Linked DNA regions of Homo sapiens. The protein of the gene in region 3 binds, or shares a complex with, the protein of the main gene of each other region. Each region holds a gene or a part of one and is shown on either strand. Other genes may lie near its edges. A codon is read from its position in the direction of its gene.

Region 1 (7,202 bases), on a different chromosome or scaffold from region 3:
GAATAGCTATCGCTAGATCAAACAAGTTCAAACCTGTCCCCTTCCCAGGAAACTGTCTGAGCATCTCATACCCAAGCTAGGACTGGAAATATTAAAACTGAAATTCAAATATGCTCCTTGCAGAGTGGCTCATGCTAGAGCTGAAGGCTAGCATTTACATGCTATATTAATGAACGCAGTTATATTAACAAAGTGGTTTATTAAAGAACTATAGAGATGGAACCTGTTTTGCCCTAAAACTAATATGTGGCACAATGGAAAGTTGGCCTACGGGTCCCCCAGCCCTGAGATACGTGCTCCCAGCTCTTAACAGTTACCTTTTCATGCAGGTCATGGAAGTCGCTGTAGCGGTGCTTTACTGTCCACTCATGGCTGCCATCAGTGACCTGGATGATGTAAACCTAAAAGGGGAAACCAACAGCCCTTGTGGCAAGGGAGCCCAGCAACAAGGAGTCTCCTCCCCCAGCAGCAAAAGCTGCAATTATCTTTCCCAATTATCTTTTATCAGTCTTTCTCTCTGCAACTCAGACCCACCCCAAGGCCAAAGTCAGGCTGCCCTTGCCCACCAGCCTCTGCACCTGACCCTTGCTGACCAGCAGGGCCCCTCTCAGCTTCCTCCATGGCCCAAGCACTAGGGCTGGGAGGCACATGAGACAAGCATGTGGCTCCATCCATCAGTAAGGAATGAAAAAGGTGATTACCACAAGTCACCTCTTTAGTTTTTTACCTCCTGCCTCTAGGTAACTCAAAACCCAACCGGAGCTGCAGGCAAGGCCATTTCTTCCAAGGGAGGCAGAGCAGGGCCAGTTCTAGCCTGAGCATCTTCTCTGTTGTACTTCTTTCCAGGTGCCCTGACTACCTCCTGGAAGCAAGTCATTTTCCAACCCTTTCAACTGGTTCATGGCTGTGATTTCTGCTGCTGAGCCAGGAATCAAGGCACAAGCAGCTGATGTGGGGAGGGAGTGGTAGCAACTAAGCTCTATCAGGAGGCAATATGGCCTAGAGGTTAAGGAAGGCCTGGGTTAAAAACCTGGTTCTGCCATTTCCTGGCTGCAGCTTATGTGTCACTTATATAAGTAACTTGGAGCCTAAGTTCTCTCTGAGCCTTAGTTCCTCCATCTTAGAATCAAGGACCAAGTAAGGCAATGCATGTAAAATGCTTTGTACATGGGCCTGACCCATGGCAAGTGTTCAAAAGGTAGGTGTGTTAATAATGTCCAACTCGGCACACCCGGAGACAGAGGATGGTAGGGTCCAAACTAGATCACCACCTCCCCCGACATACATGCAGAGGAGGGGCGCAGTCCAGAATAGGGTGAGCTTTTTGAAGATGGCCCTCTGGCTGAATGTGCCCATAGCTGATGGCCAGTCAGCCATCAGCTTAGAGACCTCACCCGCCTCCTGCACCTAGTTTCCCCCTCCTCTCTGCAGCATGGAGCTGAAGCCTCCTCCAGCCCTGAGGAGCAGCCATTTCTCCAGGCTGGCCTGTTGCTTCAAGATCCACCCCTCTCCTCTTCCCATCCTGCCTGATTCCTTCCCCTTGCCTTCAGGAAAGGAGAAAAGAGCCAGAAGAATGGCCCTCAGAGCGGAAGGTTAGGATGAGGGCCAGGGAGGGGAGGTGCAGGCAGGCCCAAGGCCCCCACCCACTCCCTACCCTGCGGGAACAAAGGGGAGGAGGCAGGGAGGTGCTCTATGCCTAGTCCAGGGCCGGTTTTTGCCAGGCAGCCCACCAGGCTCACAGGCCTGGCATCCAACCCCGTCAAAGTCGGGAACTACCCGCTATTTGTCCTCTGTCTCCCCCATAGCTTAGAAGTGTGTGTGGGCAGCTTGTTGCCCCATCTCGCTCCCACAGCCCAAAGTCACGAAGATTCCTAAGGCTTATAGGGCCTGCGCTTTAGCACTGAGACCACCCCCATTTCTCCATAGATGGGCTCCACCCCTCCTCCGGTCTTGTCTCCGCCCGACCCCCAAGGCATCTGCTCCCCAGGTCTCTCCTGCACTTCTCAGAGAAAATCTCAACCACCACCTCAGGCTCCCCAGATCAGGGTCCTGACGCCTTCTCTTTCTTCAAGGCCTGCGAAGCCTGACCCTTTTCCCTGATTCCATCCATCAGAGACCCTCTCCCCATCGCCTTCCTCCTGGACCCCTGTAACGGTCTTCCAGGCCGGGGCCCCTCCAGTCCTAGAGGATCTAGAGGGGTTCCGCCTCATCTAGACACCCCCCTCCCCAAGCCCCCTTTATCCCCAGATGCCGCCCCCAACCCGAGCCTCCCTTTCTGATCGCGTACCCTTTTCCAAACCGCCTCCCCGGGCCCCGAGCAACCCTTCTCCCGGACCTGCGGGGCCCAGATCCCTTTCCTAGATCCCCCGTCCCAGCCCCCTCCTCGCAATCGCAGACCCTTCTACCCGCTCCTCGGGGCTGCAGATCCCGGACCCCTCCCCAAGCCCCCGAGTCGGACTCCCGGTTCCAGCCACCACCCCCGCTTCGGGTGCCCGCGCCCCCAACACACCGTATAAGTGTCCACAAGCTCCGAGCCCACGACGCGCGCTTCCTTGGCCGGCTCGGCTTCCCGCTCGGGCCCGAAGGTGCGCGCGGTCGCCATGTTCGGGTCTCCGCCGCCACCGCCGCCCGGCGCAGACTAGCAGCAGCAGGGGGCGGGGTCAACGTCCCACCGCCCCCCGGCCCCCGCCGCCCGTCGCCCCCGCCGCGCGCTGCGCCGCCATCTTGGCCCCGCCTTCTTCCTGCGCCCTCGCCCCGCCCCCGCGCGTGACTGACAGGGGCCACTCAGGGCGCGCGTGCGAGGTGCTCGCTTGCGTAATCTACCTGCGTGGCGCCGCCGGCGGTACCCTGCACAGCCTGCTAGAAACTGAGACCCCGGGTGGTGACAGCTCTGGGCATCGCCCCTGGGTCCTCGGGAAGAGGGGACAGAAGGTCCCGAGTCTCCCAGGCCACACGAAGCAAGTCACTGCTCTTCCTGGCCTCAGTTTACTCCTCCTGATAAAGGAGGCCATAATAGTGCCTCACCTGGCTGTTGGGCTCTTTCTCTTTAGGGCAAGGCAGGTTGGAGGGGAAAATAGGACCTGTGCTTACCGCCGGAGCAGGGCGAGAGTGATTCTGGGCCAGTTCTGAACCTCTCTGAGATTCGGAGATCTCTTGTCAGTGGGGCTTCTGGACAACTGAGTGGGTTGATTGATGCGCGGCCCAGCACGCAGTAGTGCTCGAGGCAGGGAGCGTGTTTATCAAGAGGGATAAACTTGATACGAACTCTGTACGAAGGAAGGTGTAGGTGGATGGAGGGGTGTGTGCTGCCACTGAGCACAAGAACCCCACGGGGTGGCCTGCCAAAGTTCAAAACGAGGGAGACAGGTTGATCTGGACCCAGGAACTACAGTGCTGAATCCTAAACCGGGGAAAGATGAGACCTAGAAGAGGGAGGTGGTAACCTAATTGGAGGGTGAGGAGGGAAAGAGCCTGCCACAGATGGGGCATCTATAGGGGTGCTGTTGAATAACTGAGAGCAGCTGACTTAAGCCCGAAGTGGGTACTTCTCCCTGGGCAGATGGGAGGTCTGGGACAGGCTCCTCTGGCAGAAGGGCTCCTGGCCACCCTGTCCTAAGGTGGGTCAGTCACTTCCTCCTTCACCAGTTCCACAGCATCTTACTATGAGCTTGGCATTCGAGGCTTCTCTTGGCAGGGCCCTGCACTCCTAGCCTCTCCTTGCACATTGCACCCCCATTCCAGAGAGGTTTAGTTAAAGGCGGGGGTTACCAAGTCAGTCAGATCTTGGGCAAGTCACCACTCCTCCAGAGCCTCAGTTTCCTTATCTGGAAAGTGGAGGTCATGGCAACCCGCCAACCTGGTTGGATGGGAGCCTGAGCTGTTGTGTTGCACCTTGCCTGGGGCCCACGACTTTGTAGCTCCTGTCCTGCACTGGGCTTATGTTTTCATTCATTCCAGAAACCTTTTCAGAGAGTCCCTTTGGGGAGTGTGGGGGACAGGAGGGAAAGAAACCTGGTCCTTGTAGCCGTTCGTCTGCTCCCTGCCCTGGGCAGAGGACGTGGGGACTCAGGCCAGCCTGAGATCACTGGGACCAGAGGAGGGGCTGGAGGATACTACACGCAGGGGTGGGCTGGGCTGGGCTGGGCTGGGCCAGGAATGCAGCGGGGCAGGGCTATTTAAGTCAAGGGCCGGCTGGCAACCCCAGCAAGCTGTCCTGTGAGCCGCCAGCATGGATGACATCTACAAGGCTGCGGTGAGGGACAGGGCTGGGTAGGGCTGGGGTGGGCAGGCCCACTGGGGGCTCACTCAGCTGAGAGTGCGGGGTTAGTAGCCCCAGGGAAGTGGTGGGGACCAAGGAGAAGGCCTACGTGCCTTCAACCCAGGCCCTCACAGGGACAGTGATTCTGGTGTTTGAGGATGCAGAAGGGGTAGGGGGTTCCGGGTCTGAAGGGTGGTGGAGGAGGTTGCAGCTTTCAGCATCGTGTCTCACTCTCTGTTTCCAAGTGTCTGTGGTCTGTGGCACTGTCGCTCAGCCACATGTCTCTGCATTTGTCTCTGGACGTTTTTGCCTTTCTCTTTTCATCTCTTCCTCCTGAGCTGTCTGAGTCCCCATTACTGTCTCCCTGTCCCCAACCCCCATTTCTGCCCCTCACATTCTGCTTCTCACATGCTCAAAATCTGCCACCCCACTCCAGCCCCTTGGCGGGCCGAAGATGCTTTGGAGGGTGGAGGGTGTGAGAGGAGGGGTCTGTAGAGCCTGAGTCCTGGGCTGGAGATGGGGCTTTGAAGTTTGAGGCAGGGAAGTTCTGGACATGAGGGAGAACCAAGGAAGAAGGAACAGAGAACTGGGGCCCCAGCTCCCATCATGCCTGGCAGGCTCAGGGCTCAGTGGCTTAGCTAGGGGTGAGAGCGAGGGAATGAGGGCTGGAGAGTGGTCACCCCAAGCCCCTGCAACCTCCTGGGTCACTGAGGGTCTTCAGATGCTATTCTATCCTGGGTGGTGGTGACCTCCCCCAACCCCAGAGCAAGGACATCCTGGCATGGCCAGCTGTCCCCAGGGGAACCCCTCCCTCAGCCTCCCTCACTCCTGGGCAGGGAAGTGCTATAGCCAGCTCTGGGGGCACGCCTGCTTATCCTGTGGGAGTCCATGGAGCCGGGGTTGGGACAGCCCTCCACCCAGTGCCCATACAAGGCCTGGCGGAGTTGGGGACTAATTTTGGCTTCTGAGGCGGCACTAGCAGGCCAGGGGGCCAGATAACGCTGCCCCACCCCCTGCATGCCAAAGTCCCCAGAACAATCACCAGGTTTAACTTTGTTCCTCGTTAAAAATAGCCCAGTGGCCACCCTGGTCAGGTTACCGTGGGTGGCTTGCCTGCCTCCACACTGGTTTTATTATCCCAACTTGAGGGACAGCTGTCCTTCGGGCCACCCAGCTTGAGTTTCATCAGGGGCCGAAAGGGCATTGAGTGGTCACTGACTATTGTTACTGAGGGTCACCTTGGTCCTGAAGGGGGTGCCCACCTGTCACCCTGGCCCTGAGCCCAGTCGCAGTGAGGCCAGCTGGGTCACGTCAGGGCTTTGGGGGCAGGGAGGGAGGACTGAGACCTCCACTCTGTGGCCTGGAAATAGCCTGCCTCCTCCAGCTCCAGCCTTCTCACCTGTGGAATGGGTTGGTTTCCTCAGCAGCAGCTATACCTGAGTCTGAGCCTTGAGATTCCCTTTCCTTTCTAGGTAGAGCAGCTGACAGAAGAGCAGAAAAATGGTGAGAATCCCTATCACACATGTGGGAGACCAGCGGGTCCAGGCTGGCATGGGGACCCCTTATCAGAAGAGGACCCCAGGCCAGAGACCAGAGGCTTGGTCCCTCTTGCTCTGCCCTCAGAGAGGTCTCCGAGGGAGGTGGGCAGGTTGGCAGGTGGCCCCAGGGTTCTGGCCCTCCGTGGTCCTGGCTGCTGAGCCCTGACTACTGTGCCCCCCAACCCCTGAACACAGAGTTCAAGGCAGCCTTCGACATCTTCGTGCTGGGCGCTGAGGATGGCTGCATCAGCACCAAGGAGCTGGGCAAGGTGATGAGGATGCTGGGCCAGAACCCCACCCCTGAGGAGCTGCAGGAGATGATCGATGAGGTGGACGAGGACGGTGAGCCCCCTCCTCCCCAGGCTCCAGAAGAACCCCAGCTGGCTGGGGGCTGGAATGCTGGCTCTGTTTAGCTGGGAGCAATTTAGCCTATCCGAGCCTTGGTTGCCTCATCTATAAAATGGGCATAAGGGCTACACAAGCCTGGCGTTTGGTGTGAGGATGCGGTGAGAACATGGGGGTTCGTGTCGAAGGTGCTGCCTGCAGTACCTACCCTGGCCTCTGTAACGGCCATGCTGCCCACCCCCAGGCAGCGGCACGGTGGACTTTGATGAGTTCCTGGTCATGATGGTTCGGTGCATGAAGGACGACAGCAAAGGGAAATCTGAGGAGGAGCTGTCTGACCTCTTCCGCATGTTTGACAAGTGAGCACGTGACCCTTGACCTCTGACCCTGACCCACACTCAAGCCGAGCTGTACAGGAGGGCAGTCTCAGATTCCAGGCCTAGGGACCCTGTGGCCTCTGCCTGATAGGGGAGAGGGATGCCCCATCTCCCAGTGTCCCTGCTCTGCCTCCTGGGGCATGGGTGGGGCTGCCTCATGCCCTCCCCACAGCCCTACCCTGAGCCCCCTCCCCACAGAAATGCTGATGGCTACATCGACCTGGATGAGCTGAAGATAATGCTGCAGGCTACAGGCGAGACCATCACGGAGGACGACATCGAGGAGCTCATGAAGGACGGAGACAAGAACAACGACGGCCGCATCGACTATGATGGTAAGCGGGTGGGTGGGCTGATCTCCTGCCTCCATGCCCTGCCCAGCCCCTACCCTCAACCCACACCTGCCCCTCTTTCCACAGAGTTCCTGGAGTTCATGAAGGGTGTGGAGTAGATGCTGACCTTCACCCAGAGCTGCCTATGCCCAGCCTCCAACTCCAGCTGAGTCCTGGGGTTGGGGAGGGGGTCGGGGTCCCAGGACCTGAGCCTGGCCATGTCCTCAACCCCAAATCCCCCGACTCCCTCCCCAGATCTGTCCTGGGGGATGCAAATAAAGCCTGCTCTCCCAAGGTCTGCTATCTGGCTCTGGTGTCCCTGGGCCGTGGACTCATCCCCAGGACCCACTCT
Region 2 (7,065 bases), on a different chromosome or scaffold from region 3:
TATTCCGCTTCTGGGCTGGCGGCGAGAAAGGGCCCCAGGCGTTCCCCATGAGCCGCCTCTGGGACTCGCGCCTGCGCCACTACCTGGGCTCCCGCTACGACGCCCGGCGCGGTGTCAGCGACTGGGACCTGCGCATGAAGCTGCATGACCGCGGGGTGAGGGGCCCAGGAGAGGGGCTGGGGGCCTGGACCCCTGGGTCTGAGGGAGGAGGGGCTGGGGGCCTCCTGAGTCTGAGGGAGGAGGGTTTGGGGGCCTGAACTCCTGGGTCTGAGGGAGGAGGGCCTGGGGACCTGGACTCCTGGGTCTGAGGGAGGCTGGTGTAGGGGTCTCTCCACGCTCGGTTCACTGAGGGCTCCCTTCTTCCCGCCCCCCACCCCAGGCTCAAGTCATTCACCCCCAGGAGTTCCGACGCTGGCGGGACACAGGCGTCGCCTTTGAACTCAGGGACTCCAGCGCCTATCATGTGCCCAACCGGACCCTGGCGTCCGGTCGCCTCCTGAGCTACGTGCGTGTCCACTGCCTGTCCTGGCCCACTGCTGCTGCTCGGAGTCCTAGGAGTCAGGGGCCCCAACATCGACCTCACCTGCCTCCTCTCTCCCTCCTTTTCCAGCGTGGGGAGCGCGTGGCAGCGCGCGGGTACTGGGGGGACATCGCCACGGGGCCCTTCGTGGCCTTCGGCATCGAAGCGGACGACGAGAGCCTCCTGCGGACGAGCAACGGCCAGCCAGTCAAGGTGCGCGGCGAGGCTGGGACTGGGGGTAGAGGTGGGGCTGGGGGTCGGTGGGTGCGCAAGGCCCCGCCCCCACAGCAGGCCCCGCCCCCAGCTCCAGACCCCGCCCGTCGCTTGGTGGGAACGACTCCATTCAGAGAACAGGCCCCATCCCCGCGGGATAGGTCCCGCCCCACTTCACATCCTCCAAGCAGCTGCGGGAGTTCTAGTCCTGGACCGAGGACTCCCAGCGTTCTAAGCCCCGCCCCGCCATCCTGGCCCCGACGTCTGGCCACGCCCCTTCTACTGTTAGACGGCCGGGGAGATCACTCAACACAACGTGACGGAGCTGCTCCGCGACGTGGCCGCCTGGGGGCGCGCGAGAGCCACCGGGGGGGACCTGGAGGAGCAGCAGCACGCGGAGGGAAGCCCGGAGCCAGGGACTCCAGGTAAGCCAGGGACAACAACAGGTAAGCCAGGGACTCCAGCCTCCAGGTGTTTCACACTGGAGTGTGGACTGACATGATTTGGAATGCCTGGGCAAGTGACGGCTTCTTGATATTCTGTCTCTTTTTCTCTCTTTCTCTCCCTTTCCTAAATTCTGAGAGCATGCTTAGAATTCTGAATTCCACTAGCAGAATTCTAATCTTATCTGCAGAGGGCTAAGCTATCCAAGAATATTCTCACAGGGTGCTGGGTCCCAGCTCCCCCTTGGACAGCCTCCCACACCCTGGATCCTGGCTGGGCCTCCTTCCAGCCATCCTCCAACCTGGCCCTCCCTGCGTGTCTGTCTGACAGGGCATGTCACATGTGGCCCTGGCCACCCACCCTCTTTCCCTCTCTAGAGTCTCAGTTGCCTGATCTGTACAGTGAGTCTCTGCCTGCCAGGCTGACCTTCCCAGAACTTTCCAGGAGCCTACCTTAGAGGATTTTTTAAAAAGCTGCAAGAGGACAAAAAGTGTTATCTCCAAGTCCTGTGTGCCTGCCCAGCTCTGCCCAGCTCTGTGTATCTCTCTGGTTTTCCGCCCTTATGGCTCCGCCTGTCAGAGGTGACCCCTCTATCCCCTTCCCCCAGCAGCCCCGACCCCGGAATCTTTCACCGTCCACTTCCTGCCGCTCAATTCTGCTCAGACTCTCCACCACAAGAGCTGCTACAACGGCCGATTCCAGCTCCTCTATGTGGCCTGTGGGTAAGCGGGGAGGCAGCTGTGCTCACAAAGACCCAGGATCAGGCCCCCAGCCCCTCCTCCCTCAGACCCAGGAGTCCAGGCCCCCAGCCCCTCCTTGCTTAGACCCAGGGGTCCAGGCCCCCAGCCCCTCCTCCCTCAGACCCAGGAGTCCAGACCTCCTGCTCCCTTCTTTCCCCAGGACCCAGACTCCAGTTTTGCCACCCCTCCTCCCTCATTGTCTGGGATCCCAGAGCCCCATCCTCCCTCCGGATTTGGAGCTGAATCTCAGCCTGTCCTCCGTCCTCTCTGCAGTATGGTCCATCTTCTCATCCCTGAGCTTGGGGCCTGTGTGGCACCCGGAGGGAACTTGATTGTGGAATTAGCCCGGTGAGTCAGTGGGGTGGAGGGTGGGGAACATCCTGGCTGGGGATCAAAATCTGGGTCCCTGACAGGGCGCTTCCCATCTGCAGGTACCTGGTGGACGTGCGGCAGGAGCAGCTGCAGGGATTCAACACCCGGGTCAGGGAGCTAGCTCAGGCAGCTGGATTTGCTCCACAGACCGGGGCCAGGCCTTCAGAGACCTTCGCACGTTTCTGCAAGTCCCAGGAATCAGCTCTGGGCAACACTGTCCCAGCTGTGGAACCCGGAACTCCGCCCCTTGACATCCTGGCCCAGCCTCTTGAAGCCAGCAACCCAGCCCTTGAGGGCCTGACCCAGCCTCTGCAGGGTGGGACCCCACACTGTGAGCCCTGCCAGCTGCCCTCTGAGTCTCCAGGTTCACTCTCAGAGGTTCTGGCTCAGCCTCAGGGGGCCTTGGCTCCGCCCAACTGTGAGTCAGACTCCAAAACTGGAGTCTGACCCAACCCCTAGACACCCCTTATCTCCAACTTCCAAAGTCAGGTTGTAGGATGAGAACCCGCTGATACCATTCTAAGTCCGCTGCTAGAGTCCTCAATTTTATTCTAATCATTCCCACTCAGTACCCGCCACCCCCACCCCGGGAGTGTTGGTAGACTTTCAAATTCCATTTCTGAGATTCTATGGTCTATTCCTAGAATTCTAGATTGTTCTCTCAGAATTCCAAATTCCACTTCTGAGGCTCTAAGCCCAGCCTAGGATCTGACACTGAGTCTCAGGCCCTTGACTTTGGCCCCCTTGTTCCCAGGCACCCTGTGGCTGACTAGGGGCTGGGGTGTCTCCTCACCAGGGCCTGGTCAGCACCCAGATGGTTCAAGTAAAGCAAGTTGTGTCCACCCTTCTGTGTGTCCAAGCGTCTTTCCTGTCCTATGTCCGTCTCCAGGGCTGGGAGAGAAAGGCCCAGGAGTGCTGGACAGAGGAAGCCAGAAACCAGATTCCTGGGTTTCCAAGTGGACGAGGGATGGATTTCCCAGTGCTATTGACTGAGAGCTAGCCCCGAGCACAGCTGCATCCTCAAATTAATCAACAACATTTATTGAGTGGCCTGGACTCCTGGGTCTGAGGGGAGAGGGATTGGGGTCCTGGACTCCTCGGTCTGAGGGGAGAGGGATTGGGGTCCTGGACTCCTGGTCTGAGGGAGGAGGAGCTGAGGGTGCAGACTCTTGAGTCTGAGAGAGGAAGTGTGCTGGGGGCCTGCCTGGACTCCCTTGTCTGAGGGAGGGGCTGGGGGCCTGGACCCCTGGGTCTGAGGGAGGAGGGGCTGGGGGCCTGGACTCCTGGGTCTGAGGGAGGAGGGGCTGGGGCCTGGACTCTTGGGTCTGAGGGAGGAGGGGCTGGGGCCTGGACTCTTGGGTCTGAGGGAAGAGGAGCTGGGGGCCTGGACTCTTGGGTCTGAGGGAGGAGGGGCTGGGGGCCTGGACTCTTGGGTCTGAGGGAAGAGGAGCTGGGGGCCCAGACACTTGAGTCTGAGGGAAAAGGGGGCTGGGGGCCTGGACTCCTTGTGTGAGGGAGTGGCCAGGGTCTCCCAGGGTCCTGGGACTGAGGGAGGAGGAGGTTGGGAGGTCGGGCATTCTCTGGGTCTGAGGGAGGAGGGGTCTAGGACTCCAGGATCAGAGGGAGGAGGGTCCGGATTCCTGTGCCCGGAGGTGGCTGGTGATCCAGCTGGAGCAGGGCCCACCCCGCCCCTCACGCGCCCCCGTTATCTGGCATAGTGGGCAGGGGGAGGAGGAGGTGACAGTATATTTAGTCTGTGTCCTCGCCCTTTATCTCAGTGTCCTCGGGGAGTCTCAAGCAGCCCGGAGGAGACTGACGGTCCCTGGGACCCTGAAGGTCACCCGGGCGGCCCCCTCACTGACCCTCCAAACGCCCCTGTCCTCGCCCTGCCTCCTGCCATTCCCGGCCTGAGTCTCAGCATGGCGGATGGGTGAGTGATGCCCCAAGGCAGTGGGAGTTGGGGGCGACCTCCCGGGTTCCCAAGAGGGGTCGCAGCTGAGAGGCTGGACCCTTGGCCTGCGAGGTAGGCGTAGGGACTCTTGGGTGAAGAGAGGAAGTGGGTTTGCGAGTCAGACTCCTGGAACCCAAGGAAGGGGAAGCGCGGTCCCCCGACCTCTTGTTCAGAGGGGACTCCAGGGGTCCCTTAGGAGACAGGACACAGCCCACCACTAACCCCCCTCCTTGGTTTCTCTCCTTCCAGGAGCAGCGATGCGGTGAGAGCAGCGGGCTAAGGCGTGGCTGGGACCCCCAGGGCCAGGGTGGGCGCTGCAGTGAGGGGTCTGGGGCGGGAGGCTGCAGCCCTAGCAGAGGGTGCGGTACGGTAAGGGCTGGGTGGGGTCTTGGTGGTGATGGGGTCCCCACTCCTCCTAACCCAGGCTAGGGAACCTCGCCCTGCACCAGCCCCAATCAGACGCCGCTCCTCCAACTACCGCGCTTATGCCACGGAGCCGCACGCCAAGGTGGGACGGGGCTTCCTGGGGGCAGAGTACAGGCGCCGGAGGGATCCAAGACCCTGGGAGTGGGGGGAGGAGCCAGGGCTGCGAAGGGGGCGGGGACTACGCGGAGGGGCTTCAGGGGCGGAGTTTTGCAGAGGGTCATGCTCGGATTGGTGACAGCAGCCTGCGGGCGGAACTCCGTTGCCCTCGGACTTGCTTAGGGATAGATGGGAAGTGCCTATCCAAAGGAAGAGACCCAGATTGGTGGATGGGAATGAGGGGCGTGGCCTCCCGTAGACTCAGGGCTCAAGTTGGACGTGGGCCCAAATCTGGACCGGCTGGGTTTGCTGGGGGTGTCTTGAGGTCCCCTCCACCGTCGTCTCCGAATCCCCCTCCATGATCCTTCCTTGCTCCATCTCACCCTGGCAGAAAAAATCTAAGATCTCCGCCTCGAGAAAATTGCAGCTGAAGGTGAGGACGGGCGGGACTGGGAAAGAGCAGGCAGGTGCTCAGGGGGCGGAGCTTGAGAATGGGTGGGGCTTTCGGGGTAGGTGGGCGGAAGTGGGCGGGGTTTGGCCGCTCGGGGCGTGGCTTTAGCGGGGAGTACTGCTCGGGGTGGGACGGGGCCTTGGAACAGTGGAGACCAAACTGGAGGGTTTAGAAGGGCAGAGGCGGTTCCCCACGCCTGGTCTTTATCCTGAAGCCCCGGGTGGGCTGCGCTTCCCTCCCACCCCTCTGCAGACTCTGCTGCTGCAGATTGCAAAGCAAGAGCTGGAGCGAGAGGCGGAGGAGCGGCGCGGAGAGAAGGGGCGCGCTCTGAGCACCCGCTGCCAGCCGCTGGAGTTGGCCGGGCTGGGCTTCGCGGAGCTGCAGGTACCGGCTCCCAAGGATGCGAGGTTTCTAGTCCCGGAATTCAGCAGTACAGCCTCTATCCCCTCTTCTGCTCGGGACCCAGGCGTCCAATATGGCTGTCCTTACCCAATTATATATGGTTCGTGGGACTCCTGGCCCCTAACACCCTTTGTGTGCAGGTCTGTGGAGTCTTGGCTCCAACCTACTCCTTCAGGACCATGTGGCCCTCCTATCCCAGACAGAAGCCCAAGCCCCAGCCCCTCCTCCCTCAGACCCTGGAGTCCAGGCCCCAGCCCCTCCTCCCTCAGACCCAGGAGTCCAGTCCCCAGCCCCTCCTCCCTGAGACCCTGAAGTCCAGGCCCCAGCCCCTCCTCCCTCAGACCCTGGAGTCCAGGCCCCAGCCCCTCCTCCCTCAGACCCTGGAGTCCAGGCCCCAGCCCCTCCTCCCTCAGACCCTGGAGTCCAGGCCCCCAGCCCCTCCTCCCTCAGACCCTGGAGTCCAGGCCCCAGCCCCTCCTCCCTCAGACCCAGGAGTCCAGTCCCCAGCCCCTCCTCCCTCAGACCCTGGAATCGAGGCCCTCAGCCCCTCCTCCCTCAGACCCTGAAGTCCAGGCCCCAGCCCCTCCTCCCTCAGACCCTGAAGTCCAGGCCCCAGCCCCTCCTCCCTCAGACCCTGAAGTCCAGGCCCCAGCCCCTCCTCCCTCAGACCCAGGAGTCCAGTCCCCAGCCCCTCCTCCCTCAGACCCTGGAGTCCAGGCCCCAGCCCCTCCTCCCTCAGACCCTGGAGTCCAGGCCCCAGCCTCTCCTCCCTGAGACCCTGGAGTCCAGGCCCCAGCCTCTCCTCCCTCAGACCCTGGAGTCCAGGCCCCAGCCCCTCCTCCCTCAGACCCTGGAGTCCAGGCCCCAGCTCCTCCTCCCTCAGACCCTGGAGTCCAGGCCCCAGCCCCTCCTCCCTCAGACCCTGGAGTCCAGGCCCCAGCCCCTCCTCCCTCAGACCCAGGAGTCCAGTCCCCAGCCCCTCCTCCCTCAGACCCTGAAGTCCAGGCCCCAGCCCCTCCTCCCTCAGACCCAGGAGTCCAGTCCCCAGCCCCTCCTCCCTCAGACCCAGGAGTCCAGTCCCCAGCCCCTCCTCCCTCAGACCCTGGAATCGAGGCCCTCAGCCCCTCCTCCCTCAGACCCAGGAGTCCAGGCCCCCAGCCCCTTCTCCTCCCTCAAACCCAGGAGTCCAGGCCCCCAACTCCTCCCTCAGACCCAGGAGTCCAGGCCCCCAGCCCCTTCTCCTCCCTCAGACCCAGGAGTCCAGGCCCCGAGCCCCTTCTCCCTCAGACCCAGGAGTCCAGGTCTCCCTGTTTTTGGTTCCCCCAACAACACACACCACGTTCCTCCTCCAGGACTTGTGCCGACAGCTCCACGCCCGTGTGGACAAGGTGGATGAAGAGAGATACGACATAGAGGCAAAAGTCACCAAGAACATCACGGAGGTGGGACG
Region 3 (7,649 bases):
TCTCCCGCCTCACTTTAGCCTCACTCTCACATCACCCTGTCCATTCTCTCCCTTGGAAGCCAACATCAGGAAGGCTGTGGAGCTGGCATATTGCACTATAACAGAGGCTGCTGTTCACGTTTCAAACAACGTGATTGTGTCCCTGGAGCAGTGCACTGTCATGGCCCCGGAGGGTTGGGTCATAGTAGTTATTAGCTGAATGCCTACACTTCACACTACCTCTGTTCCTCACACCTACCCAAGAAGAGCAGTAATTTCACAGCAAAGAGAGCTGAGATGTGGGGAGGTTAAGTGACCTTGCCAAGGTCGCAGGCAAACGCATGCTGGAGCCAGCATTCAAAACGAGATTAGTCTCACACTCAAGTGCTTGCTCTCTGCCCCCTCCCTGTGATTACATGCTCATTGTAACACCTGATGTTGCCTAATGCCTTCCCCTTTTGTTAATGTCAACTGGAGCCTCGTAAAGACCCTGAGTAGCCAGGATGTGTACACTTTATCTCCATGAGACAGAGAAAGGACTGAGGTTTGGAGATGTTAAAAAGACTCGCCTAAACACCCTCGGCAAGCTAATGGAAGAGGATCTGAATCTAGATTATCTGTTCCCAGTGCAGTGAGAAGATGATCTCAGAATGAGTTCCCTGGGGGAACATTTTTTAATCGGAATTTTCATTGACATAATTAAAGACTAGTACACAGTTGTCTTTAATAACGAGCGTTTACACACGGTGCCTAGTTTCTCCCGAGGGCAACATTTGCAAAATTAGTACTATATCAAAACCAAGATTGGACATCAATACAATCAATCTATGATCTTATTCAGATTTGCCCACAATTGCACCATGTGTATGTGAAACTCTAAACAACTTTAACCTGTGGAGGTTCACGTATCCATCACCACAGTCTACATACTGAAAAGATCCCAAACCACAAGGATCCCCGCTGTGTGCTTTGATTTATTTATTTAGAGACAAGTTCTCACTCATTTGTCCAGGCCAGTCTCTTGGGGTGCCCAAAGACCTTTTGTCCAGGTCTCACTTTTGTCCAGCACACATGGAATGGGTGTGGTGGCTCACGCCTGTAATCTCAGCACTTCGAGAGGCTGAGGCAGGAGGATCCCTTGAGCCTGGGAGTTCGAAACAGCCTGGGCAATGTGGCAAAATCCCAGCTTTACTAAAAATACAAAAATTAGTCGGGCATGGTGGTGCACAACTATAGTCCCAGCAACTCAGGAGGCTGAGGTGGGAGAATCGCTTGAGCCCAGAAGGTTGAGGCTGCAGTGAGGCTTTGTGCAGTGAAGATTTGTACAGTGCTGAACAGATCCTGTGGAGTGGGGGTGGGCAGAGTGGATGGAAAGGTTGAGAAACTGCAGACATTGTCTTGAGTGTCACAAATGGAAATGCAGCATCCCAGGCAGTATTGCCTGTTCAGGGGCAAGGAACGAAGTGGACATCAGCAGGTGGCCTTGCTGCCATGTGGGTGTCACTATCTCCCCCAGCAGGGGAGAAAACAGGCTTTTTGTTGCAGGTCACACAGCTCATGAGGGGTGGAACTAGATTCACCCTAGGCCTCGCTGATCTCTGTACAACGGGGGCCAGAGCTCTTCTGAGGAAGGCAGGCTTCCCTTTGTACCTGCACTGACTTTTTTCTCCTTTTGGAGGGAGAGCAGAGACCATGTCTGACATAGAAGAGGTGGTGGAAGAGTACGAGGAGGAGTGAGTATCTGGAGCATCTTGCCTGAGTGGGGTCCTCTCCCGCCGCTGCCCTGACACCTGGTCCAGGAGCCTCCCAGCTGTCCCTCGGATTCTGGGTAGAAGTAGCTGTGTGTGTTTTGGGCACCCCGAGGAGAGATATAGCCATTTCCTTTCCACTCCTGTACCCCTGGGTTGTAGATCCCAGGCAGAGCACAGGCCGAGAGACTTCGGGAAGCACAGAGGTTCAGCTCCAGGGTCATCAGTGTCCTTGGCCAGTCTTGGCTAGGGGCCATGAACAGAGAAGCTGAGATGTTGGGTCTCCTGAAACTGACTGAGGAAGGTTCAGTGACTCTCCAGAGGCACAGAGCTGATTATGCCCCCCAAACCCCAGCTCAGAACCCAGTGTTATCACCCTGTCTTGGATCCCTACTCTCTCATGACAGTGCCCTGCCCACAGTCCTATCCCAGAGGGAAACCAGGGGGTGGGACACAGCCAATCCAATAACTACAGAGGATAGTGGTCACCAGGGAGGAGACAGAGGTATAGGCACGGCTACTGCCCTCACAGAACTTACTCTTGTTGAGATGTTAAGACATAAACTGGGAGAAGAAATTAGCAACTGGGGGCCTGGTGTGGAGGGCGGGCTGTTGGTAGTGTAGGAGTTCTGAGGAGAGGGAGATCAGGGGCTGGAATAGTCAGGGGGCTGTGTGGAGAAGGCAGGTCTTACCTGTGTAGAATTTGGAAAGATAAGAGATTTGGGAGAGGGCAGGACTTTCTAGAAAGGGGTACAGCTTGGGCAAAGATGGAAAGAGTAAGTGAGCAGAACGCTGGTGAGACCAAGCTGGCTGGGGCGGAGGCTTGCGGAGGATGGTAGGAGGCAGCCCTGCATGAGAACGGCAGGCCAGGCTAGTGGGTGTCATTGCAAGGTGGGCAGGGCAGCGTGGACTCCACTAGGCAACAAGGGAAAAGAAAGGGGGATTATCTTTGGGGAAAGGCCAGTGTGTGCATGTGTGTGCAGGCGTGTGTGTTTGCATGTGCTTGTGTGCGAGCTACTGACAGTGTTTCCTGTTGCTCTCAGGGAGCAGGAAGGTAAGCGTAAACGTGTGTACTCATTTGGATCAAAGACAGCCTGGTTCGAAACTGACCCACCTCTTCTCTCTTCTCTTGCTGCCTGGACTTCTCTTCTGAGCAGAAGCAGCTGTTGAAGGTATGTGCCTCAGGCAGGTGGAGAGCCAGAAAGGGGCAGGCTCAGCAATGTGGAAATCCTGGGAGCCCTGGGAAAGCAGCTCATCTGTCCCTGCTCCTCACTCTCAGCTGAGCAAGATCCTCCAACAACAGTGCCTTCTAAAATGGGAATCAGTCCTACCTGGGTTGCTCGGGTCTTGAGGCAAACGATTTAAACCTGTCTCTTCTGTCTGCCATTTGCTTCAAACACACTGATCACTTTTCCCAATTTTTTTTGCTTCTTCTCCCTTTTATCATGGGAAATTTTAAATGCACATAAAGGTAGCAATAATAATAATAATGGCCCCCCCTGCCCAAGGTACCCATTACCAGCTTCAACAATCATCATCTTAGGGCCAGTCTTCTTTCCTCTATACTCCACCTTCCACCAGTTATTTTGGAGCAGACATCCAAAATTGTTCCCAGGCACCATGTCAGTTCACGCTTCAAGATTTCGCTACACCGTATCTCTAAGAGATAAGCACTACTTAAAAACCATAACCACAATGCCATGATATGCCCCAAAAGATTCCATTTAGTAATTTCTCAAATGCGATTGTGAGTATGAAATTGCTCAGTGATCTGAGACGTCTTATCTCGGCATGAAGATTTGTCATGATTCTGAGCTTGCAGAGGCCCCTCTTGCTGCTCCTATGCTGATCGGTTAACCCATCGCCCTCCTCAGCTGTGGGTCCCACATCTCCCTGAAAGAACGCCCTCACCTTCCCTTCTTCCTGAGAGCTTGGCACATGGAAATGACTCAGAGGCTTCACTCCAGTCCTCCCCCTGCACCCCAGGCAGGTGGACCCTGCCTTTTAGTGGCTCAGGTATCACTTCAGCATGTGGCATGTAGATATTAGGAGAAGGGTCTCTATGAAGGTCCAAGGGGGGAGCCCAGGTGGCCCCGCCCTTGCTCCCCATGGCTCCTAGGGAAAATGGGGACCCTCCTGCACATTTAGGGCTGTTCCAGGGCTGTCTGGCCAAAGAGGAGACAGAAGAGAAATTCACAGGAGAAACTGAAAGAGGCCACAGGCGTCTTTTTTGGTTTTTAAGGAACACCAGATACTTCAGAAGCTATCAGAAATATATTTTTGAATAAAAAATCTAACTGGCTCCAAATTCTGCTGTGTTCCCTGAACAGACTCTTGATATGATATCCCTTCCTTTGTTTTGGAGGATTTTCCACTTCCTTATAACAGGTTTAGGGTGGTGGAGTTTGAGACATAGATCTCTGGATTTGGGACCAATCTGCCTGCCACACACAGTAGAATTTGGCTGTGAGTTAGCAGAGTCATTCTCCACTGTGCTGGGGCCTGAGCCGTGTAGCATCTGCCTTGCTTGCCATGAATAGACGAGACTTGCCTCCCACACAGTTGAGGATCTGGCTGCAAATGATCAAGAGAGAGCAACGTCTAGATGGGTGTCCACTAAGCCTGCAGGATAGATAATGCCAGGTGTCCTTCTTCCAGGAGAGGAATTGTTCCACTTGCTGGAACTGTTTTTTTGGGCAGATATTTGTACGTAGAACAACTGTTGTAGATGCAGCCTCTTTCCTTAGATTTATAATGCTGGACCCTTCTTAGATGGGGCAGCATCCTCCCAACAGGCCGGGCAAATCTCCCCTGGGGCCAGGCTCTCCAATGAGGCTTTCTAAAGTGTGACTCCTGGAAACTGGACATAGTTTGCAGGATACCCAAGAGCCTCATTCAGAGCAGGAACATGGGCAGGCTCGTTGAGGGCAGGAAATTTGATGGAAGAGAATTGTCCCCCACTCTCTGCTCTTTAGGGGCCTCTGTCTTAGTAAGAAGGAGGCCAAGGCTCTGTCGTCTAGAGGCATTGCAGTTACCACAGATCGCATGCTCCTCTTGTGCCAGGCACCTGCTGGGCGCTCTATGCACGCTAGGTCATTCAGTCCTCACCACGGCTGAGAAGTGAGTAGAATGATTCCCATTTTACTGATGAGGCACCTGAGGCTCAGGGAAGTAACTGAGAGTTGCCCCTGTTGCTGGAAAGTAGTGGCTTGGGAATTGGAATGCCGGCCTAACTCCAAAGCCCACACTCTTAAAACCACTGCGCTGGGTGGCTGCTCCTGCCGCGGGCTCTCTGCTCCCAGACTAACCTGTCTCGCTTTTCCCCTCCGCTGCGGCCACTCCCTGAACCTCAGAAGAGGAGGACTGGAGAGAGGACGAAGACGGTAGTACAGCCTTTCCTTCTGTGGTGCTTTCTGCTGCCTGCTGTCCCAAGTGCAGCCTCCTTGTCCAGGGGCCCTGTTCTGGGGGCTGGGGGGTGTGAGTAGGCGGCAGGGACGGAGTGGGTCAGTCGTTTCCTCCCCTGCCTCCCAGGGGCCAGGATCACAGTTCCAAGCTGATCATCATGCCTGAACTTCAGGGCCACTGGCTCCTCTTCCTGGTTCCTGGATCCTTCCCCTGGGTTGGGTGGTGGGAGGGACCAAGGCTAGCTGGTCTCCCAAGCTGCTCCAAATGTGGCCATAGAGGGGACCTGGCACCTGGAAGACAGCAGCGCCACCCTGCCCCCGCGCACACCCCAGTGTTCCATGCTGGGCCCTCCTTAGGAGCTGGACAGCACCAAGCAGGGTGGCCAGGTGTTGGTTGGGGGGTCTGGGGACAGAGTCCTCTGGAGAGCAGCCAGGGAGACTGGAAATAGCCAGAGCAGGAAGGACATGACGTCAGCCTTCAGATGCGCCCTGCTGATGGGGAGCACAGGACCAAGGCAAGGGAGTGAGACCAGGGCTTAATTTTAGAAAGTGCGTTCTGACAGCTATATCTCAAGATGCAGTAGGTGGGTTGGGGAGGCAGTAAGCTCCCCATCCTTGGGATGTTGCATGGCCACTGGGTGGGCTGGGGTATATTATATAGAGAAATGACACGTCAGATGAGGTGGCAGAGGTGTGAACAAGATGGCCTAAAGGTAGACCCCACAATGGCCATGTCCTTCCTCGCTAGCCCTCTGCTTTCACACTTTCTAGAAGGATCATTTTGAGGTAAGACTCCTGCAGGGATCAAATAAAAGGCATCTCCAGGCTTCAGAGAGGACTCAGACCTGGGAAGGGAGGACAGAGGGAATGAAGGCCAACCCTTCTCCCACGATGGTGTCTTCCTCCTGTCTGAGGTTTTTCTTCTCCCTCTGCCAAGAGGCACCCACTTCCCAGTGCATCAGTGAACAGGCATCACAGAACACTTCCTACAGGCACAGCCCAGGCCAGGCGGCATCCTGTCTCCCTTATCTGTTTGTCTGTCTGTCTACACCAAGTGCCTGAGTGAGATGGGGGCCACATCCTGCCAAACAAATAGATGAAAATAGAAAAATCCTGCCCACTTTCTGGATAGTACGAAGATCCAGATATTGAGTGTGCCATCCAGCCACACAGTCGTACTCTTTTGGTTTCTTTGAGATGTGGATTGAGGGTGTCTAGAGTCACTAGGTTCAGGACAGGAGCTTCTGGACACCTCGGCTTAAGCAGAGCATGTTCTGTGGTGCCAGACACGGGGTGGAACTTCTGGGCTGGAAAGTTGGGGAATGAGGTGGAGTCCCATCATCAGGGAGGTTGCCGGGATGAGTGGGGCTAAGCTGGGTGGCGGGAGGTAGCCGACAGTCAAAACCAAGAATGGCAGCCCCCCAGCACGTTGGTTGCCCCCAAATTCATCTGGACCTAGACGTCTTGACCCCCATCCCCACTCCCCGCTGCCCATTCTCTGCTCTGGGTTCTGCCTGATAGCATGAGTGGGGCCTGCTTCTTCACTCTGTCTGCTTCACTTCTCCAGAGCAGGAGGAGGCAGCGGAAGAGGATGCTGAAGCAGAGGCTGAGACCGAGGAGACCAGGGCAGAAGGTAAGTCTCTGGTTGAGGGTGCAGGGGCCTCAGGGGGTGGCGAGAGCCCCTGGAGCCATTCCTGAGGCAGTAAGAAACCCCCCAGAACAGGCTTTCCCATGTGCACCTGACTCTCCTATTGACTAAGATTCAACCATTGATTGCCCAATCAACAAACGTTGACCCAGCGCTTCTCTTGTGTCAGGCAGTCTTGGGTCCAGGGGAATGTGTGTGTGAGAGACAGCTCTGTAACCCCAAAAACCAACAGAGTGCATCTTGGCTAGGGCTTATCTGTGGGGAAGGCTCTTGCTGGTGGCGGAGGGGGGGACTTGAGCTCAGAACAAGGACCTTGATTGATTTCTCGTGTTTCATTTAGAAGATGAAGAAGAAGAGGAAGCAAAGGAGGCTGAAGGTAAGGATATCAGGAGAGAGGTACAAGGGAGGCAAAGGAACCCCTCACAGCAGCTTTGGAGGAGAATGCCCACAGTGCTCTTTCCAGGGAAGTGGATGTGCACTGAGAGGGTTTGGGAGAGGAGAGGACAGAACTTGGTGGCACTTCCAAAGTTTTAGATGTTGAGCTTTCAACTTTGCCCCTTCTCCCAGAGAAGTTGCATTGGTGGCACCCAGTGGGAGAGGGGACCATTGTCCAGCCCCCTGGTCTGGACAGAGCAATGGGACCCAGAAGTCATATCCACACATGAAGCTCCTAGAGCTTAGGTGAAATCACTTGTAGGATGTGGTGTCCGTAGGATGAAATCCCAATGCATAGATGGTCATGGTGGGTCATTGCTGCAGTCATCGTCATGCTGCAGCCTTCACCAGGGTTCTAAGTGGTCCCAGTCACTTCTCCAAAGGGGAGGGGACAACCAGCTGGGGCTTGGAATCATGTCATCAGCTTCTGCCCTG

Evidence for each region. Proteins that work in one complex are often made in the same cells at the same time.
Region 1: the proteins of TNNT2 (region 3) and TNNC1 are in contact, whole or in part, in a crystal structure (PDB 1J1D), measured with the Homo sapiens proteins. Residues at the interface, in NP_001263274.1 of Homo sapiens: Gln266, Tyr269, Asn272, Val273, Asn276, Arg277, Asp280; in NP_003271.1 of Homo sapiens: Asp99 (codon at 6,478), Phe101 (codon at 6,484), Arg102 (codon at 6,487), Asp105 (codon at 6,496), Ala108 (codon at 6,721), Asp109 (codon at 6,724), Gly110 (codon at 6,727), Tyr111 (codon at 6,730), Arg147 (codon at 6,838), Tyr150 (codon at 6,847), Asp151 (codon at 6,850).
Region 2: the proteins of TNNT2 (region 3) and TNNI3 are in contact, whole or in part, in a crystal structure (PDB 4Y99), measured with the Homo sapiens proteins. Residues at the interface, in NP_001263274.1 of Homo sapiens: Glu214, Lys217, Lys218, Ile221, Leu222, Arg225, Arg226, Lys227, Leu229, Ile231, Asp232, Leu234, Asn235, Glu236, Leu239, Arg240, Ala243, Lys244, Leu246, Trp247, Ile250, Tyr251, Leu253, Glu254, Ala255, Glu256, Lys257, Phe258, Asp259, Leu260; in NP_000354.4 of Homo sapiens: Arg68 (codon at 5,517), Glu71 (codon at 5,526), Lys72 (codon at 5,529), Ala75 (codon at 5,538), Leu76 (codon at 5,541), Arg79 (codon at 5,550), Gln81 (codon at 5,556), Pro82 (codon at 5,559), Leu83 (codon at 5,562), Leu85 (codon at 5,568), Leu88 (codon at 5,577), Gly89 (codon at 5,580), Phe90 (codon at 5,583), Leu93 (codon at 5,592), Gln94 (codon at 5,595), Leu96 (codon at 6,971), Arg98 (codon at 6,977), Leu100 (codon at 6,983), His101 (codon at 6,986), Arg103 (codon at 6,992), Val104 (codon at 6,995), Asp105 (codon at 6,998), Val107 (codon at 7,004), Asp108 (codon at 7,007), Glu109 (codon at 7,010), Glu110 (codon at 7,013), Arg111 (codon at 7,016), Tyr112 (codon at 7,019), Asp113 (codon at 7,022), Ile114 (codon at 7,025).

Annotation. Positions count from the first base shown.
Region 1 is NC_000003.12:52,451,042-52,458,243, reverse strand, and holds TNNC1 (troponin C, slow skeletal and cardiac muscles), read left to right. Parts: upstream 1-4,202; 5' UTR 4,203-4,228; coding exon 4,229-4,252; intron 4,253-5,730; coding exon 5,731-5,761; intron 5,762-5,991; coding exon 5,992-6,138; intron 6,139-6,385; coding exon 6,386-6,500; intron 6,501-6,716; coding exon 6,717-6,853; intron 6,854-6,937; coding exon 6,938-6,969; 3' UTR 6,970-7,144; downstream 7,145-7,202. Other genes in the region: NISCH (nischarin), read right to left, coding at 318-401, 2,510-2,602. UniProt on the Homo sapiens protein: Troponin is the central regulatory protein of striated muscle contraction. Tn consists of three components: Tn-I which is the inhibitor of actomyosin ATPase, Tn-T which contains the binding site for tropomyosin and Tn-C.
Region 2 is NC_000019.10:55,154,733-55,161,797, reverse strand, and holds the start of TNNI3 (troponin I, cardiac muscle), read left to right. Parts: upstream 1-4,065; 5' UTR 4,066-4,208; coding exon 4,209-4,219; intron 4,220-4,489; coding exon 4,490-4,502; intron 4,503-4,664; coding exon 4,665-4,748; intron 4,749-5,153; coding exon 5,154-5,195; intron 5,196-5,465; coding exon 5,466-5,597; intron 5,598-6,967; coding exon 6,968-7,057; intron 7,058-7,065. Other genes in the region: DNAAF3 (dynein axonemal assembly factor 3), read left to right, coding at 1-155, 380-505, 611-733, 1,023-1,158, 1,788-1,899, 2,191-2,265, 2,349-2,736. UniProt on the Homo sapiens protein: Troponin I is the inhibitory subunit of troponin, the thin filament regulatory complex which confers calcium-sensitivity to striated muscle actomyosin ATPase activity.
Region 3 is NC_000001.11:201,367,277-201,374,925, reverse strand, and holds part of TNNT2 (troponin T, cardiac muscle), read left to right. Parts: intron 1-1,524; exon of another isoform or gene 1,525-1,657; 5' UTR 1,658-1,671; coding exon 1,672-1,712; exon of another isoform or gene 1,713-1,807; intron 1,808-2,770; coding exon 2,771-2,781; intron 2,782-2,884; coding exon 2,885-2,899; intron 2,900-5,080; coding exon 5,081-5,110; intron 5,111-6,698; coding exon 6,699-6,764; intron 6,765-7,119; coding exon 7,120-7,155; intron 7,156-7,649. UniProt on the Homo sapiens protein: Troponin T is the tropomyosin-binding subunit of troponin, the thin filament regulatory complex which confers calcium-sensitivity to striated muscle actomyosin ATPase activity.